4 linked regions of the Homo sapiens genome follow. The protein of the gene in region 3 purifies or fractionates together with the protein of the main gene of each other region. This does not show direct contact. Each region holds a gene or a part of one and is shown on either strand. Other genes may lie near its edges. The genes, in order: PEX1, LRCH4, ISM2 and RSPRY1.

Region 1 (4,994 bases), on a different chromosome or scaffold from region 3:
TGATTCACAGATAGTGGCTAATAACATAACCAGATGACCAGAAATTTGGAAAGAACACAACTGGGTATGAGGTCTGGAGGAAAAGTATGCCCAGAGTTCTTGGAATGGGCCCAAAGAATCAGAATATTTGTGTCCTATGTGAATGCTCAGTTAAAAGCCTTCAGTGCTTATACTAATCAAGTGGTCAAGATGACCTCTGTATGGATGTCAATCGGCTGTCTTTTCCAGCCACCCCAGTGCTTAAGATTCATGGTCAAATTGGCCAAGAGTGCAGGGATGTGGCCTCCACAATGTGGACTTCCCCCTCACCACAGCTGACATGACAACCCAGCTATATTGACAGCCTACTTGTCAGCAGCAGTGACCAACCAGGCAAGTCCACACCCAGGAGAGAACAGCCCAAGTCTGACGGCAGGTTGATTACATCTGATCCTCTTCTATCACAGAGCAGGCAGCAATTTGTCCTTCCTGGAGGGGACACACCTTGGAATTGTATTTGTTTTGTATGTTCTCCAAATTTTTACCACCACCACCCTTCATGAACTTACTAAATGGTTTTTACATTGTTTGTTAGGCTATCCCATAGACATTGCTTCTGATCATGAAACTCACTTTATGGTGAAAAGAGGGCAGGTATGTCAGCTCAGTGATTTCATCAAAGAACTGAGAAACAAAGTGCAATGCAGGGTGACGTGTCTCAGTTTAATACTAGTGATCCACTAAGTCTTTGTTTCTATCCCCTGGGATTCTGAGCTTTGCTGGTTTAGAACCTTGAACCTCCTGGGAGCAAGTGATCCTCCTACCTCAGCCTCCCAAGTAGCTGGGACTAGAGGCATACCATCATGCATGGCTAATTTTTTTTTTAAGAGATGGGGTCTCACTATGTTGCCCAGGCTTACTTGTATATTTTAATTAATGTTCTCCTTTTTGCTGTTCCCTTACCCCATTACTATATAGTTAAGATATTAGATACGCAGATTGTATTGATGGTGGCTAACTTTATAATTTAGTTCATATATGAGAGAATATCAAGATAAAATCATAACTGGAACTAGGAGAGGAATGGATGTCATTTAAATATCTTGGGCTTGGAGCTGGATGTAGTATAGTAGAGGGATGTGATTTCATTTCTGGTTGAGCGGATAATTAAATGTATTTGAATTATGTGTAAATTTCACATTTTTTGATATACAAAGAACAGATAATTGTATCAGTAGGTAATAGGATATTTTATTTCAAAACAGTGAAGAAGCTGCTAAGCATAAAATTTGTCAAATGCTACAAAGGTGATGAATATACAACTGGGAATTCCAAGAAATTTAAATTTAATTACATTCTTTATTATCTTTTCCTCAAAAGAAATAAATTAGTTCCACCATTTGGCTAATATTATTTCATTAAAGACTGAATTTAGATTTTAGGAAATAAAATATGGAATCTGTTATAATGTCCCAATTTATACTACAGTATTAATCTCAATCCTGATCATTACATAATTATAGCATTTACCAATCTGTGATTTTATAAATTAACCAAATTTGTTAAATTAAGAAGAAATTCATAGACACCATTTTTTTCCTGTTACAACATATGGAAAAGCCATCAAAAAACTTAACAGAACCAAATCAAAAAGAAGTATATTTTATGCTAAAGTTACTTTCTGTCCAGGTCGAAACATTGTTCCACTTTGATTTTTTCTCCTCTTTGGATTTTGAAAGCTTTCATATCTGAAAAAAGAAAGAGATAATTTAATATGTATAAATACTACCATTACAAAACAAAAGATAATGGATTGTTGGCAAACACAATTATATTTTAAGAAATGAACGGGAAATAACAAACTAGAAAAAAAAATTCCAGTCACAGAAATTAAAAAGAATTCTTACAAATAAAGTTGCACTCCAATAGAAAACGGAGCAAAGGGGATGAAGAGACAAGTTAGAAAAGATAAAATACAAATGACAATGAATAATATGAAAAATTATAACTTCTACACTTTAATCAAAGAAATGTAAATTATTGATATCATTTTTCTAAAATCAAAAGGGCCAAGTTTAGAAAAATACTGCAACACACAATGTTAGTGATGGTGCAGTATATCTGGCAGGCAATTTGGCAATACATTTCAAAAGCCTTAAAAAATGTGAGCTCCCTGTTATACAATTCCACCTCTATCCTAGTGAAACAATTAGATATGTGCATATATTCAGCTGCAAGAATGTTCATTACCACATTGCCTGGGAGCAATTTAAATGTCTAAAAATTGGATATTGTGGCATAGCTACACTATAAAATGACATTTAAAAACAATAAAGTAGTTAACATTTAAAATGTAAAACAATTTTCAGGATGTATGTGGATAAAGGGGGACTGCTATATAGCAATATGTACAGACTGTTCTTACCATAATAGGAAAACATATATAAGCATATAAACAAATATGCTTTGGGAGGTGGTGGGCTTAACAGAAATTTGTTTCCTTATTTTTCCTTACCTCTGTTTTCTGATTCTTCTTTAATAAATACATAGCACTAACGTATGTACACATACATACATACTTCAAAGTACTGCAAAATTAGATAACAAAAGGTAGCAGCTTCTAAAGACCAGGAATAAACATCTCTTAAATTGAATCACACTGAATCATTGACCTAGAATGGTTCCCAGTCCATGGGTCTCAGATGCATAGGTGGCCATAAACTCAATTGCAAGGATCCTTTAAATCCAATGTATAACAAATGTGGTCCACAAATGAATAAATCTGAATGTATTTAAATGTTCTTGAGGTCAATAAAATATTAATATAAATTATTTTGAAGGCAAAACAGGTATTTTTATAACAAAATTTTATAAACTATACATTAGAATCACTTTCAACTTTTAATTTTCCTTCTTATTTCTTCGAAGTTACTAAATTTTTTTTTTTTTTTTTTGAGACACAGTCTCGCTCTGTGGCCCAGGCTGGATGGAGTGCAGTGGTGCAATCTCGGCTCACTGCAACCTCCACCTCCTGGGTTCAAGCAATTCTCCTGTCTCAGCCTCCCAAGTAGCTGGGACTACAGGCACATGCCACCACACCTGGCTAATTTTTGTATTTTTAGTAGAGATGGGGTTTCCCCGTGTTGGTTAGGCTTGCCTCGAACTCCTGACCTCAGGTGATCCACCTGCCTTGGCCTCCCAAAGAGCTGGGATTACAGGCATGAGCCACAGCACCCAGCCCAAAGTTACTAAAATTAAATGAGTCCATTATGAATAATTCAAATATAATCAAATGAACTGGTTAATGAAAACTCAATTTTGACTTCTGTACTTCTGACATTTTGGGGTTTTTTAATGCATAGCTACGACACATATTTTTTGAATTAGCTTTTAAATATTCAAAATATTTTTATTTTAAACACGAACTTTAAAGGTTTAAGTGTAATACTATGTCACTTGTAATAGTAGCTGTACTTCCAAAACAGAATCTGTTACTTACAGCTCAGCAAAATTCTTCCAGTCATCTTCACTAATGGATGGTCTTGTGTGACCAAGTGCAGTCATTAAATGTGACTGACTAATAGCCAGTCTGGTTTTGATTGGTCCTGGTTGGTTCATGGATTCGTCCTCCTTAAGTAAAAAAAGAAATTGACGAAGAGTTAAATTAAGGATGTAAAAAAAAATGTGGTAGTCCAGTTGTTACTTCTTATTGTCAGTTTTTTCAAGAGACCATACGTTCTCTTCCTTATAAGATAATGAAACATTGAAAGCAAGGAAGCACATAACCATGACTGAGTTAATGTGTTCTGGTCCCTTGTTTATAAATATAGCTCGTTTATAAGTCAAAGAAATATATATCAAAAGGGTGAAACAATTTTTAAGAAGTTTTAACAATTATAATGAGGGGGAAAAAGCCATACTCCACTTTGGCTCCGGTATCTGCCTTTGATAATACTGATATCTGCCCTCAGTTGATCTCTTTGTTCTTGTGTAAGTTCTTGGCAACCCTCTTGTGAAGCTGTCCTTAACACTGGAGGCTGTGAAAACAACTGGTCTTTCCCAGGAACTCCAGGCAAATCCTGAGTCATGGAGCTTGGTGCAGAGAGACATTGTGAGCTCTGCATGGTAAATTGTAGTAATGAAAGATGGAAGGAAGAGGGGGAGAGAAAAAACTATGTGTTTACCAAATATAAAAATTAAACATTTTAAGCAATAAAACATTAACATAGATAAGTATACATGTTAATTAACTGAAATTAAGCAAGCTGAAAAGTTGTTCATCTTTTATAAAGGTTCACTGATACCTGTGTTATAGAACCACCATCAAGTGAAAATTGCCATAACACAGGGTAGGTTTTTTTAACTTTGTTGCTTAAATCCAACACACTAATGCCCAAGGACAGGTTTCTTCATTTTCAGAAAGTAAAGTTATACTAAGTTTCTGGGACATTTCTAAATAGAATAAATTAAAAACAGAATTAAAGACTAAAATTAAACCACCACCTTACTGTTCTTGGGAATAAAAATGAATTGCTTTTATATTTTTAAAGTCTGAGTTAGGCTAGGCATAGTGGCTCACACCTGTAATCCTAGCACTTTGGGAGGTCAAGGCACGCAGATAGCTTGAGCCCAGGAGTTTGAGACCAGCCTGGGCAATATGGTGAAACCTCGTCTCTACAAAACATACAAAAATTAGCTGGGCATGGTGGCATGTGCCTGTAGTCCCAGCTACTCAGGAGGCTGAGGTGGAAGAATCACCTAAGCCCAGGAGGTCAAGGCTGCAGTGAGCCATAATTGTGCCACTGCACTCTAGTCTGGATGATAGAGTGAGACTGTCTCAAAAAAAAAAAAAAAAAAAAGCCTAAATTAATAAAGCAAATGTACAAAAAACCAGGAAACATATAGATAACCAAACACATGTACAGATGTTACATGTACCAATAAAATTACAGTGAACCACTATTAATTTTTAGAAGAGATGTTGAATGCTAGTAGAACAGTGATACTGCCCACAT
Region 2 (4,498 bases), on a different chromosome or scaffold from region 3:
CGTCAGCTCAGCTTCCCCGGGAAGGCCCATCCGGACGTCAGGTCCCGCCCAGCCCTGTCTGTCCTCCTCATCTCCTCGCCTGCCCACTCCACACTCGAACCCACCCTCCATTTTCAAATGATCAGCACAAGGCACAAACCCTGTTCAAACACCTCCTGTGACATGCAACCAGGGCTGCAGATGTTGAGCGGATTGTGGCCGCCCGGGAGTCCCCTTTCCCCAGCACGGGCCCAGCACTGCACCCTGCATGAAATGCTGCCTGCCCACAGGGAAAGGTGCCTTTTGCTCATCTTAAAAAGGCACAGTCTGGGACCGGCACGGTGGCTCACGCCTGTAATCCCAGCAATTTGGGAGGCCAAGGCGGGTGGATCACAAGGTCAAGAGATTGAGACCACCCTGGCTAACATGGTGAAAACCTGTCTTTACTAAAAATACAAAAAATTAGCCGGGTGTGGTGGCGGACGCCTGTGGTCCCAGCTACTTGGGAGGCTGAGGCAGGAGAATGGCGTGAACCTGGGAGGCGGAGCTTGCAGTGAGCCGAGATTGCGCCACTGCACTCCAGCCTGGGTGACAGAGCGAGACTCTGTCTCAAAAAAAAAAAAAAAAAAGGCACAGTCTGGATTCATGGCGGCCCTAAGCACAGAATAAAACCCACAGCTCCCTAACCCAGCATGAGGAAGGCTTCCACAACCTGGCTCCACCCGCGTTTCCCACCTCACTGCCCACCCCTCCGGGCCCTCAGCTTCTGAGCCTTCCCAGGTGCTGTTTGCTCAGCTGGGAGAACTCCATTTTCCCCATCCATGCATCTTTCAAGGTTCAGCTCAAGCATCACCACCTCCTCGGTGGATCGTTCCAGACATCCCAGATTGGATGGAACTCATTGCTCTTGCCTCTGTCCCCAGGACATCTTGCTTGGATTTCTTTTTATGGCCCAGAGAGAGCCCTTCCTACCCCTTTTGACTGGGAAGGAAGAGGGCAGGTGCAGAAAGGGTCAGGGAGTAGGGAGACAGGGAAAGTGGATGACCACCTCACTCCCTCCTTGTTCTTCAAAACCAAGTTCACACTTGAGCATGGCACAGGCCTTCCTGCCATGCCTGGCTCACCTTCCTAACCCCATGCTTTGCACATGCTGGGTCCTCTGCCTGGATGCAGAAGGCTGGGGAATTCTCCTTCAATGTTCGGCTCCCACTGCGCCTGCGCCTCCGGTGAAGTCTTCCCCAGGACCCCCACGCAGAGTCCAGTGCCACCTCCCTCTAGCCCCCGTCTGGGGAACCCCCTGACGGAACTTCCCTATGACTGTCTCTCCTCAAGAAGCCATTAAATCCCTAAGAGATGGCCCCAGATCTTAGTCACATCACCCGCATCTACCTGATCCCAACACAGGAATCATACACACATCACACACACACACACACACACACACACACACACACACACACAAAACCCACACACACGCAAACAACATACATACACACAGACACAAACAACATGCACAACACACACATAAACATACACAACACATACACACAACCCACACAACACACACCCAAACACACACAACACATACAACACACACAACACAGACCTAAACACACACAACAGACATAAACACAAACACACACACAAAGACACACACAGACACAAACACACATACACATGCACAGACACACACGACATAACACAGACATAAACACAACACACACACAAACACAGACACACAAACATACACACGCACACACACGACATAAATAACACAGACATAAACACAACACACGAACAGACACAGACACACATACACATGCACATAGACACACATGCACAGACACACAGACACATGCACAGACACAACACACACATACACAAACACATACATACACACAGACACACACATGCACGCAGACACAAGACATAACACACACAGACACACACACATGCTGCTGCCTGCTGAACAAAAGGCATGCCTGCTTTGGGGCAGAGGCTATCAGTGCATCACAACAAGCACATTAGATGGGCCACCTGGGCTCTGGCACTGGCCCTGGCATCTCCGGGAGGAGTGGCGGAGCATCCCGACTCAGGTGTTTGAGAGCCCCTGCTGGGGTGAGCAGGGCTGCTGGGTGACCTTGAAGGCCCCTTCTGACCTTGCCAGTCTACCTAGAGCTGATGCACCCACCAGCTCCCCTTCTGTGCCTGTGTCCACGTTTCTAACACAGCTGCTCATCTGCGCCCTGCCAGCATCAGAGGGTTGCTAGGTCAAGATCAAATCAGATCGTTTACAGTTTGTTTTATATACTGCAAAAGCCTGGACAATGAAGGTGTAATTCTCCTCTGAAGATTCCTGGCCTGTAACTTCTTCAAAGCACATACACTGTTATGGACTGAAATGTGTCACCCAAAAAGTCCTCTGCTGAAATCCTAACCCCCAAAGTGATGGGATTAGGAAGCGAGGCCTTAGGGAAGTAATTGAGATCATGAGGGTGGAGCCCTCATCAGTGAGATTTGTGCTCCTTTATCAAAGAGGCCCCAGAGGGCTGTCTCTGCTCTCCGCCATCGGAGAGTACCACAAGGAGCCGGCAGTCTGCAGCCAGGAAAAGCACCCTGCCAGAAGCTGACCATGGAAGCACCCAGATCCTGAACTTCAGCTTCCAGAACTGTGAAAAATGAATGCCTGCCATGTATAAGCTACCCGGTCTGCAGTGTTTTCGTTACCGCAGCCTGAGCCAACTGGGACGCACATACAAACACCTCCTCTCCAGTTCTTCATTCTTCTCACCTTCGGGCAGCGTACTGAGCTGGTTCCTCCGGACATTGAGGTCCCGCAGGGAAGAGAGGCCACACAGTTCCGAGGGCAGGGATTGGAGCTCGTTGCTGCTCACGTCCTGGTATCAGGAAGGCAGTGGGAAGGGGCCATGAGACCAGGCCCAGCAGAACCCACCCTCCCATCTCTGTCTTTGCTCCAGGCCCTCCCCAACCTCCCCCTAGAAGGTCCCGCTGCCTGGCTCAGGGGTCCCTTTCCTGGTCCCGTCCCCATCCTCACAAGCTGTCGCAGGCTTCCCAGGGTGCCGATGTCAGGGGGCAGGGCTCCCAGCTTGTTGTTGCTGACGATGAGGACCCTCAGGGGCAGCTGGCAGATGTAGGGTGGCAGCAGCGACAGCTGGTTTCGGCTGTGGAAGGGAGAAAGGCAGCGGACTGGCTCCCCAGGCATGGCATCCCAGCACTGCCATCCTCTCGGGGTCACTGGGTGGGTCACTCAGTAGTACTTGAGACTGAGAAGCACACGCTCCCACGTGGCCCTGGCTCGGCCTCCCTACCTGAGGTTGAGGTAGGTGAGGGCTGTGAGATTCCCCAAGGCTGGGTTCAGGCATCTCAGGCAATTGTGGTAGAGGCTCAGGCCCTCCAGGGACACCAGCTGGCACGCCGCCTCGGGCACCTCGGGAAACCGGTTCCGGGACAGGTCTGGGGAAAAGGAGGTGTCGGGGAGAGTTGCGGAAAGGCCCAGCCCGGACAGGACCTTCAGTCCCCCCAGAGCCGGCTGCCCACTCCCTCACCTCCACACCTAAAGATTCAAGGCCATCAATGTGGCCTCCCAGGAGAGATAACAAAGCCTTCTGCCAACGGGAGCACATTCCAGGCGTGACCAGAATGGCACAGGGAAGGCAAAGGCCTTAGCGTCACTGGGCTAGAGAAGCCTCAGACTTGGGGGTTGGGGAATGTCAATGGAGGGCTATCCTGGAGAGCAGCTGGAATCTCTAACTCCTGTGGTTCCTGTTCAGAGATGCCAGGTGAGGCGGAGGACCGAAGGTGAGAGGAGGGGTCAGTGCTCATGGGAAAACAGTAAGGCGAGGGGCTGGGGGGCTCCCGGAGGGAAGATGGGAAACCCCTGGGGCAAACCACAGGGAGTGCCCATCCCTCCTCGGGGCCCTTCTTCCCTACTCCAGTGTGTTTTCAACACGGGAAAAACCACAGGTCACTCTATCTTGGTTCTAGAGATAAAGTCCCCGACACCGGACGAGTTTTTCGCCAGCCCCAAGGACCAGCAAGCCAGGTCCAAAGAATCATAAAGTTACTGATTCCCAAGGGCTGGGAGGGAAGGGCAAGAAGACCTGGTTGGAGATGGGAGCTGGAGTTCCCAGGTCCCTCCCATCTGGGCTTCTCTGGCCCAGGGCAGGCATCCTTCCTACCCTCTGCTAGCCCTAGCAGCCCGGCTCTGCTTCCTCTCTTACTGACACAGACTTCAAGAGATCAGCAACTGTGTGAGCATCTCAGGCACGGCGAGGGTGGAGAGTGTGGGAGGGCCTGGGGTCTACAATCGCCCTCTTATCTGGAGCACTGCCTTGCTATGCGGAGGCTGGCAGCCTTGGGATTCCCTGTAGCACGGACCCACTAACGGCTTAGACCTGGAGAAGCCTGCCTTTCTGTTTCCTCGGCCCAGCCTGTCCTGGGAGGGGCCCAGGGCCCGCGAGGCGGAGTCCCAGGCCACAGACCTGGTGAGCTTCTCCAA
Region 3 (4,498 bases):
GGTTAAGTAAGTTACAAGCACACCCATGGGAGTTTGACTTGGACCATAAGCAAGGGTTCCTTACACTCCTCCGCTCTGCCGGGGCCCGAAAGTCTTCATCAGGCAGAATTTGAAAATAAAGTGCTTTATTGCTGAGGAGCCCAGAGAGCTTCAGGGCGGCCATCTGGGGGCTAGGACTGAAGTCCCCTAACTTTTGGTGGCTCTTGTGAACAGAGACAGTTGAGACTTCAATATTTCAACCCCATAGAAGGCAAGGAAGTGCAGCCAGGGGAATGGGGAGGCAGGGAAGAGGCATGAGGTGTGCCGGGAGAGCGATTATGTGCATCTCTTCCCAACTCTGAGTTCAGTGCATTCAGTGATGCTGGCAGCATGACATGGGACACTGCTGGGAGAATTTACACCACAGAAGCTGCCCAAATGCAATAAATCAGGGCTTTTTTCCCCTCCCAGAGAACTGGTTTACTATAGACGTGTGACACACCGTCCCGAGCTAGTGCTGAACCCACCCAAGCCTGGCTACTGTGACAAGCTGTCACCTCCCCACTCGGGGGGAGTGCCAACTCCCAGCCCTGCACATCCCTACAATCAGCAGAACAGAGGGGGCTGAGCAAAGGAAAGGGACCAGAATTGGGCAACCCATTCCCTGCCTGGAGTCCACTTCGCCTCAGCTGGGCTGGCTTGCAGCCCAAGACTAAAGTTGGTGTCCAACAGAAAGGCAGCTTGGGGCTACAGATAGCCTCCTGTGCAGTGGCTCGTGGCAGGGAGTGGGGAAAGAAGGGCATGTGCACCACCCAGAGATAAGGAGGGGTGGCCACCCAGGCTGGATGCCCCCCCCGGCAAAGGATGGCTGTGCCCATGAGAAGAGTGGCCCTTCCTCTGCTGGCCATCAGGGTGGAGTAGGAGTGACTCGTGGCAGATCCCGGGAATCGGGATTTTTCTGGAGCTGCTGGCTAACACTTATGTGCAGAGCCAGGGCAGAAGAGCCCAGCTCCCAAGGAGGAGAAAAATGAGTGGCCAGGGTCCCAGCAGGCAGCAGAGGGAGGCCCCGGCAGACACATGCACATATGCACATTTCCAGGGCTCCCAGGGACACCCACCCTGGGCCCTACATACCCTTCAACCTTCTCACTAACCCCACTGAGATATCTGCTTCGGGGTCGCTGGCAGAGGGCACACAGCCTCGGACCAACCTCACTGGGGGAGCCCTTTCCTCACCCTGTCTGGGCAGGGGCGGGTGAGGAAAGTTCTCCCGTGCAACAGCAGCAGCCGCCTGCCCTCTCCCTGCAGTGTCTGTTCAGCAACCCCGTCACTAGTACTCCTTGGCCTCCTGCAACTGTGCTAGGTACTCCTCCTCCAGGGGGTTGTCGGTGCAGGCTCGGCCGTTGTTGGGAGGGAGCACAGCGTGGAGGCGGCTCCAGTCCCCCTTGCACAGGATCCAGGGCGTCGTGTCGAACTTGAAGTGCAGCTTAGGTGAGAAGTCGGTGCTGATGAGGTTGGGCATGCCGGCGCCCTTGCCACGGGTCAGCAGCCGGCTGTCCTCGTCATAGCAGCAGTGCTGGGCGGCCAGTGTGCTGCTCTCCCCAGACAGCATGGAACGCAGGCAGAAGCGCGCCGTGGGCTGGTAGATGTCCAGGCGCTCGCGAGGGCCACTGGCATCCCTCCACCGGAAGCTGCGGCCCTGGTGCTCGTCCTGTAGGCTCACAGGGCTGTCCATGGCCTCCAGTGGGTAGGCACACGGGCAGCTGGGCAGGTCCCGCAGCATCTGGCTCAGATACTTGATTAGGAAGTCGCTCTTGCAGTTCAGCCACTTCTCACAGCTGTCCACATCTGCAAAGGGCCACAAAGTGCAGGAGGGAAGCCAGTGACAGAGCCAGGCCCGTGTGGGGCGGGGACTGATTAAGGGCCAGTGCATGGGGAGAGAAGGCCCAGGCCCCAGCTGGTGCAAAGGCGTGGCTTGGTAGGGCCTTGGGGATGGAGAGAGGCTACCCCACACCATCCAGACAACCTGAAGCAAGAAGCTCTTGCTCAGAACAGACACAGGCCAAGGGGCTGGAGCAATGACCCAGATGTCCTCTGCGGTGCCATATGTCACATGCTGAATGGTGGGAAAGGTTTAGGTGTCATGTGCTGAATGGTGGGAAAGATCCTGAGATCTTGGAAAAGGATCTGGGGTGAGTGGAGACAGGTACAGCAGCTTTTCACCAACTGGTAAGAAGGTTTCATTATTTTAGCCACTGGACCATTCTTGTTCTGAACGCTGCCTTTCTCAGGCAATCTGGCCTGGGGTGAGTCATTTGGCCACTTTGGGCCTCCTGTGGCCCCCTCTGTCTATGCTGCTCTCCTCCCCATCTCCACCTCGGGAAACGTGGCCTTTTTTTAAACTATATTTTTATTTAATTTTAAAATAAATTATATCCCTCAAAACAAAAACCTGAGGCTAAAGTACATCTGACTGAGGTTCTCTTAAATAGAAGAGCTGGGGGGCCAGGCGCGATGGCTCACGCCTGTAATCTCAGCACTTCTAGAGGCCAAGGCAGGAGGTAGGAGCTCAAGACCAGCCTGGCCAACATGGCAAAGTCCCGTCTCTACAAAAAATACAGAAATTAGCCGGGCTTGGTGGCGCATGCCTGTAATCCCAGCTACTCGGGAGGCTGAGACATGAGAATCACTTGAACCCAGGAGGTGGAGGTTGCAGTGAGCTGAGATCACACCACTGCACTCCAGCCTGGGTGACAGAGCAAGACTCTGTCTCACCATTTCACCCGGTCCCCATGGCACAGTGCAGCAGAGGCCAGGAGCCTTCATAAACCAGAAAGAGGTGCCCCCCAGACTCACCAGAGCCCTGCAGCGAGCAGGGAAGGGGAAAACACTGCAGTCACCAGGGAACAGCAGAAAGAAGAAAAATGGCCTTGGGCGGCTGGCCACGTGGGAATGTGCAGAACCTTGCTCCTCACTCCCCAGAATCTGCCTGAGTGGATGCTGTTAACCGGGTCTTGTTTCTCATTTTCCCTTCTGTGCCCTCATCCTAATGGGATGAGCTGTCCAGCCCCGGACACTGGGGGACTGACTTTGATAGTTTGAGGCTCTGCACATCTCCAAGGGACTGGAACCTTCCCCAGGATCCAGATGCTGGGATTTGGGTTTTGACTGGGAGTGAAGGAGGAGCCTGGGAAATGGTAACACAGGAGAGGGGAAGAGACACACATTTCCCAGGCCCACCCCTGTACCAGAAAACAAACTGCTCCTTCCTCTCTGCTCCCAAATCTTTAGGGCCTTCTTTGCAGTGCAGTGCTCACATGGGTTATGCGTGTCTTTCCCCCATGGGACCTGAGCTCCTTGAGGACATGGACCAAGCCTCAGGCTGCTGACATCCCCTGTGCCAGCACCATGGCCAGGCACATGATGCAGGCTCAGTAGGCTCTTGCTGTGCTGAGTGCAACCCTTATCTGCAAGGTTGGTCTCCCTGCCTTCCTTGCAGGGTGCAAGTAAGACCAACAGACACAGACTCAGAGTGTGCAGGTGGACGCCTGCCCCATGCCCAGCTGCCTGGAGGAGCAATGCTGGAGTTCTGCACACTGACCCATTTCTGACTGCACTGCATCCCCCTCTCCAGACAGAGCCTGCCCAGGAGCCTCCCAAGAGTAACCAAGGAATGGAAGTCAGAACGTCCCCACCCTATCCTGCTGCCAGGGAGGATAGGATATGCCCCCACCAGATGATCTCTAAGCTCTGCCGCTCCCATTAAGACCTTCCCAGTAGGAATACCAGTCTGAGAAAGGCCAATGAGCTGGCTCAGAAATGCCAGGGCCCCCTGTTGGAGAAGCAAACCTTCCAGATGGAAGCTGTGCTCTCTGCCTAGTGGAAAGAAGCCAGGTTCCTGCCATGGAATAATACCCCACCCTCCCCTGAGAGCTCGTTCCCCAAACCACCAGGGGCAAGCCTAGCCCCTCACTCACCTTGATCATGCATGTCCGTAGCATTGCGGGCCAGGAGCTTCCACTCCTCACTGGGGAGGCCCAAGGTGTCCTTGTCCTCAGTGCCTTTGGGAGGAAAGGAGGCCAGGCTGGTGGCTCCGCAGGCCACCTCAGTGCCGCTGATGGGGAAACCCCCCCACCTCAATAGGCTCTCAGTGCCCACAGCAGCCAAAATAGGCCTGGGACAAGGCAGGACCACCATGTTTTTGAGCTTCCTGCATCCCATCTCCCAAGCCCACCCACATTCCCAGGGGACCAAGCCTCCAGCCTAAGCCGCACCAGCCACTCCTATGCAGGGGTAGGGGCTCATCTCACCAGGACAGGAGGGCAGGTCACAGGTACGGGTCTCGGTGGCAGTGCAGCCATAGCCACAGGGCCGAGTCCTCTGCTGCTTGCCAGTGCTGCAGTTCCCACTGCAGGGAGACCAGGGACTCCACTCCTTCTGAGGCTCATAGTCTGGGTTAAGACAGGGAGTTGGGGGTGAGTGCATATAGCTCACAGGGCAAATTGGTACAAATCAGCAC
Region 4 (4,094 bases), on a different chromosome or scaffold from region 3:
GTGGGAGGATCCCTTGAGCCCAGGAGTTCAAAATCAGCCTGGGCAACATAGTGAGACCCTTTATCTACAAAAAATAAAAAAAATTTAGCTAGGTGTGGTGGTGCATGCCTGTAGTCCAGCAACATGGGAAGCTGAGGCAAGAGGATCACTTGAACCTGAGAGGTTGAGGATACAGTGAGCCATGACTGTGCCACTGCACTCTAGCCTAGGCGGGGCCGGGGAAGGAAGGGAGGCAAGAAGGAAAGGGAAGGAAAGAAGGAAGGAAGGGAGGAAGGGAGGAAGGGAGGGAGGGAGGGAGGGAAAGAAAGAAAGAAGAAAAAAAAGCAATTAAATAAAGCCTTGATAGAGAATGTGGCGGGGCACAGTGGCTAACGCCTACAATGCCAGCACTTCGGGAGGCTGAGGTGGGCTGACTGCTTGAGCCCAGGAGTTTCAAGACCAGCCTGGGCAACATGATGAAACCCCATCTCTAAAAAAAAATACAAAATTAGCCAGACATGGGGTCATGCACCTATGGTCCCAGCTACATGGGAGGCTGAGGTGGGAGGATCACCTGAGCCTAGGGAGGTTGCAGCTGCAGTGAGCTGTGATTGCTCTACTGCACGCCAGCCTGGGTGACAAAGTGAGACCCTGTTTCAAAATAAATAAATAAAAAGACAGAGGGCTGGGTGCAGTGGCTCATGCCTGTAGTCCCAGCACTTTGGGAGGAGGCCGAGGCAGGTGGATCACCTGAGGTCAGGAGTTCAAGACCAGCCTGGCCAACATGGTGAAATCCCGTTTCTACTAAAAATCCAAAAATCAGCCAGGTGTGGTGGCGGGTGCCTGTAATCCCAGCTACTTGGGAGGCTGAGGCAGGAGAATCGCTTGGACCCGGGAGGCGGAGGTTGCAGTGAGCCAAGATCACATCATTGCACTCCAGCCTGGGCAACAGAGTGAGACTCTTGTCTCAAAGAGGAAAAGAAAAAAAAAGAGGACATAATTCTTCATAATACAAAATAAATTTACATAACAAAATCAATACTGAATAAAACAGACCCCAAATGTATAAAGATGAAACACAATACATCAAATGTTCTTTGTGGTCATTTATCTTGTGCTTAAGCACAAATGATAGTTTCATAAAAGATAAGTATTAACTTACTTTAGTGGGCAATGGACATTCATCTAGTAACAATGTTATAACAGCTGGTCCCAGTGGATCTTCCAGTGGAATAACTCTAATTAAAGACTGGACAACATCCAACCATCCTTCATCTAAGAGCAAATCAAGAAGATTATATGATGGAGTCACTATTTTTAAAATGTGAAAATATGTCACACGAGATCAATTCACATTAAAAGAAAGACTTTTGGTCTATAGATTTTTAGCAGCTAATATTTGGCATGGACATAATCATCAATTGCTAGTCATCGTGGTGGAGTAAAAACATCTTAAGTTACAGGAGTCTGGTGATTTGTGGGTACCTTTATTTGGAAAAAGGTTAAGCTATGGTCTTGTGCTCTCACATTAAAATAGTTTTAAGCATCTTATTTACTACATAGGAGTTAACTGAGAAAATGAAGTATACTCAGCAGTTGGCTTTGTTTTCAGAATGATACTTAGGAAACTAAGGAACAAAAAATATCTTTGGCCAGGGGCTGTGGCTCACACCTGTAATCCCAGCACTTTGGGAGGCTGAGGCAGGAGGATCCCTTGAGCCCAGGAGTACAAGACCAGGCTGGGCCAACATGGTGAAATTCTGTCTCTACAAACAACAGAAAAATTGCTGGGTATTGTGGCATGCGCCTGTGGTGCTAGCTACTTGAGAAGCTGAGGTGGGGTGATCACCTGGGCCAGGGTAGGTTGAGGCTGTAGTTGAGCTGTGATCGTGCCACTGCACTCCAGCCTGGGCAACAGAGTGAGACTCTGTCTCAAAAAAAAAAAAAAATATATATATATATATATATATATAAATAATCTCCTCTCCATTCCAGAACAGTATGGTGAAAGATCCATCAATGCCAAAAAAAAAAAAAAAAAAAAAAAGGTATAATATGCATTGCCTATTATACCTATTCAGGGAAATTTCCATACAGTAAGGGCTTTTTTCATTGTTATGTATGCTGTATTTTTGGAGTCTTTTATCTCAAAACAAAACAAAACAAAAAACAAAAGGTGGCTACTTTTCTTCATTATTATATATTCATTATAAAGTAATGAAAACAAAACTAAAAATACCTGTTTCTGCCATTTCGTGTAATGTTATCATTGAATAGGGAGGTTCCTGATCACTGGAAAAAAAAATTCAAGGCATTAAACCTGAGGAAATAATAAATGACAATTCCAAATAAGAATTCAAACTGGAGGTGTGGAGGTAAAAAGGGACAGAAGAAATGAACACAAATGTAAGGAAAGAGATAGAAGAGACAACCTGAGCTATGACCTGTAAGGATGAATGTATACCATATGTGCTCATTTCCAGTCACTGTCCACAATGACCCACAGACAAAATGGGCAGGTGGATACAGACAAAGACTACTATGTGTCCTGGGGTAAAAGCACAGGAGTAAAACTGGAGATCACAGCCTACTCTCAGCTTTACACTCAGAGGCCCAGTGCCAACTGAGACAAGCCAGGAAGGTCAACATCACCTTCATACTTACCTCAGAGAAATGCCAGGAAGAGAGACGACAATCCCGGTTGAGGACTTATGGAAGCAAGGGCCTATATACGCATCTTCATTTTGAAGTTTTCTTCTGGAAATACCACTACATGCTTAGACTTCATAAAATGGTATTACAAGAAACAAAACCAAACTTAAGGAACTACTTAACATTCTAGACATTGCTCCAAAGTGGCATTATACACCTTAATTCAGTGGTGTGATCCCAGAAATCTTTAAAAAGTCCTTCAGGGGAACTTCAATAATGAGATGTTTTCCATTAAACAATTCTAACTGCTTAAGAACTCACCACTTATTTGTTTACATATTGTGGGTCTCTGTTTTAGTGTGGAAAAAAAAAAAGCCCCAAAAACTATCATCTTAAGTCATTTAATCCAGAGAATAACCTTGTGATATGGGAATTAGTATGGTCATTTCAGGTACTCATTAGGTGCTGCCTGTTTAAACAATATAATTGACTGATGCAAGTATTTCTGAAGAATGATCTGGCAATAATAAAATTAAGTATGCATATACCCAACAGTTGTAGATAAATTTTTACACAGGTCCAAAAATCAATGCATATTTGCGCTGTTCACTGCAGTGCTGTTTGTAAGAACAAAAATTTGGCAGTAACCTAAGTGACCATCACCAGATGAAAATGTAACAAAATATAATACTTTCAGGCATACAAGGGAATACTCTGTAATAGTCAGAAGCAGTTGTAGATTTATATACAGTAACACAGATTTCGATGTTGAGAAAAGTTAAAAACAAAGAGGTTTGTATAACTATGTCACTCTCTTTTAAAATATTGCAAGGGGCCAAGCGTGGGGGCTCACATCTGCAATCCCAGCACTTAAGGAGGCTGAAGCTCGACAATCGCTTGAGTCCAGGTATTTGAGACCAGCCTGGGCAACATGGCAAGACCTGGCTCTACAAAAACTTTTTTAAAAATTAGCCAGGTGCAGTAGCACACGCCTGTAGTCCAAGCTACTTAGGAGGCTGAGGTGGGAGGATGGTTTGAGTCCAGGAGGCTGAGGCTGCAGTGAGTCATGATCACGCCACTGTACGCCAGCCTGGGTGACAAAGTGAGACCCTGTCTCTTTAAAAACAAAACAAAACAAAAAAACTCTCTCTCTCAAAGTCTATTCTGCACCCATTTTTCCAATGAGCTTAAATTAACATTGTTTGTGGTTTACTTCCTTATTTGGGAAGGATAACTTTTATTACAATTTGGTACAAGGGATTTAAAAAATTTTTTTTGATTAATTAATTTTTGAGACAGGGTCTTGCTCTATTGCCCAGGCTGGAGTGCAGTGGTGTGATCATAGCTCACTGCAGCTGGAAACTCCTGGACTCTAGCAGTACTCCGGTCTTAGAATCCTGAGTAGCTGGGATCACAGGCAAGTGCCACTGTACCTGGATAATTTTTAAATTTTTTTTGCAGAG

The links.
Region 1: the proteins of ISM2 (region 3) and PEX1 purify together in Homo sapiens (affinity purification with mass spectrometry; one large-scale study listed by BioGRID and IntAct). This does not show direct contact.
Region 2: the proteins of ISM2 (region 3) and LRCH4 purify together in Homo sapiens (affinity purification with mass spectrometry; one large-scale study listed by BioGRID and IntAct). This does not show direct contact.
Region 4: the proteins of ISM2 (region 3) and RSPRY1 purify together in Homo sapiens (affinity purification with mass spectrometry; one large-scale study listed by BioGRID and IntAct). This does not show direct contact.

Annotation. Positions count from the first base shown.
Region 1 is NC_000007.14:92,485,815-92,490,808, forward strand, and holds the end of PEX1 (peroxisomal ATPase PEX1), read right to left. Parts: intron 4,098-4,994; coding exon 3,900-4,097; intron 3,610-3,899; coding exon 3,479-3,609; intron 1,728-3,478; coding exon 1,643-1,727; 3' UTR 1,211-1,642; downstream 1-1,210. UniProt on the Homo sapiens protein: Component of the PEX1-PEX6 AAA ATPase complex, a protein dislocase complex that mediates the ATP-dependent extraction of the PEX5 receptor from peroxisomal membranes, an essential step for PEX5 recycling.
Region 2 is NC_000007.14:100,579,007-100,583,504, forward strand, and holds part of LRCH4 (leucine-rich repeat and calponin homology domain-containing protein 4), read right to left. Parts: intron 3,454-4,498; coding exon 3,309-3,453; intron 3,162-3,308; coding exon 3,035-3,161; intron 2,877-3,034; coding exon 2,771-2,876; intron 1-2,770. UniProt on the Homo sapiens protein: Accessory protein that regulates signaling by multiple TLRs, acting as a broad-spanning regulator of the innate immune response. In macrophages, binds LPS and promotes proper docking of LPS in lipid raft membrane. May be required for lipid raft maintenance.
Region 3 is NC_000014.9:77,474,286-77,478,783, forward strand, and holds the end of ISM2 (isthmin-2 isoform 1 precursor), read right to left. Parts: intron 4,431-4,498; coding exon 4,290-4,430; intron 4,041-4,289; coding exon 3,957-4,040; intron 1,828-3,956; coding exon 1,310-1,827; 3' UTR 109-1,309; downstream 1-108.
Region 4 is NC_000016.10:57,206,235-57,210,328, reverse strand, and holds part of RSPRY1 (RING finger and SPRY domain-containing protein 1 isoform 1 precursor), read right to left. Parts: intron 2,737-4,094; coding exon of another isoform or gene 2,644-2,736; intron 2,272-2,643; coding exon 2,219-2,271; intron 1,255-2,218; coding exon 1,142-1,254; intron 1-1,141.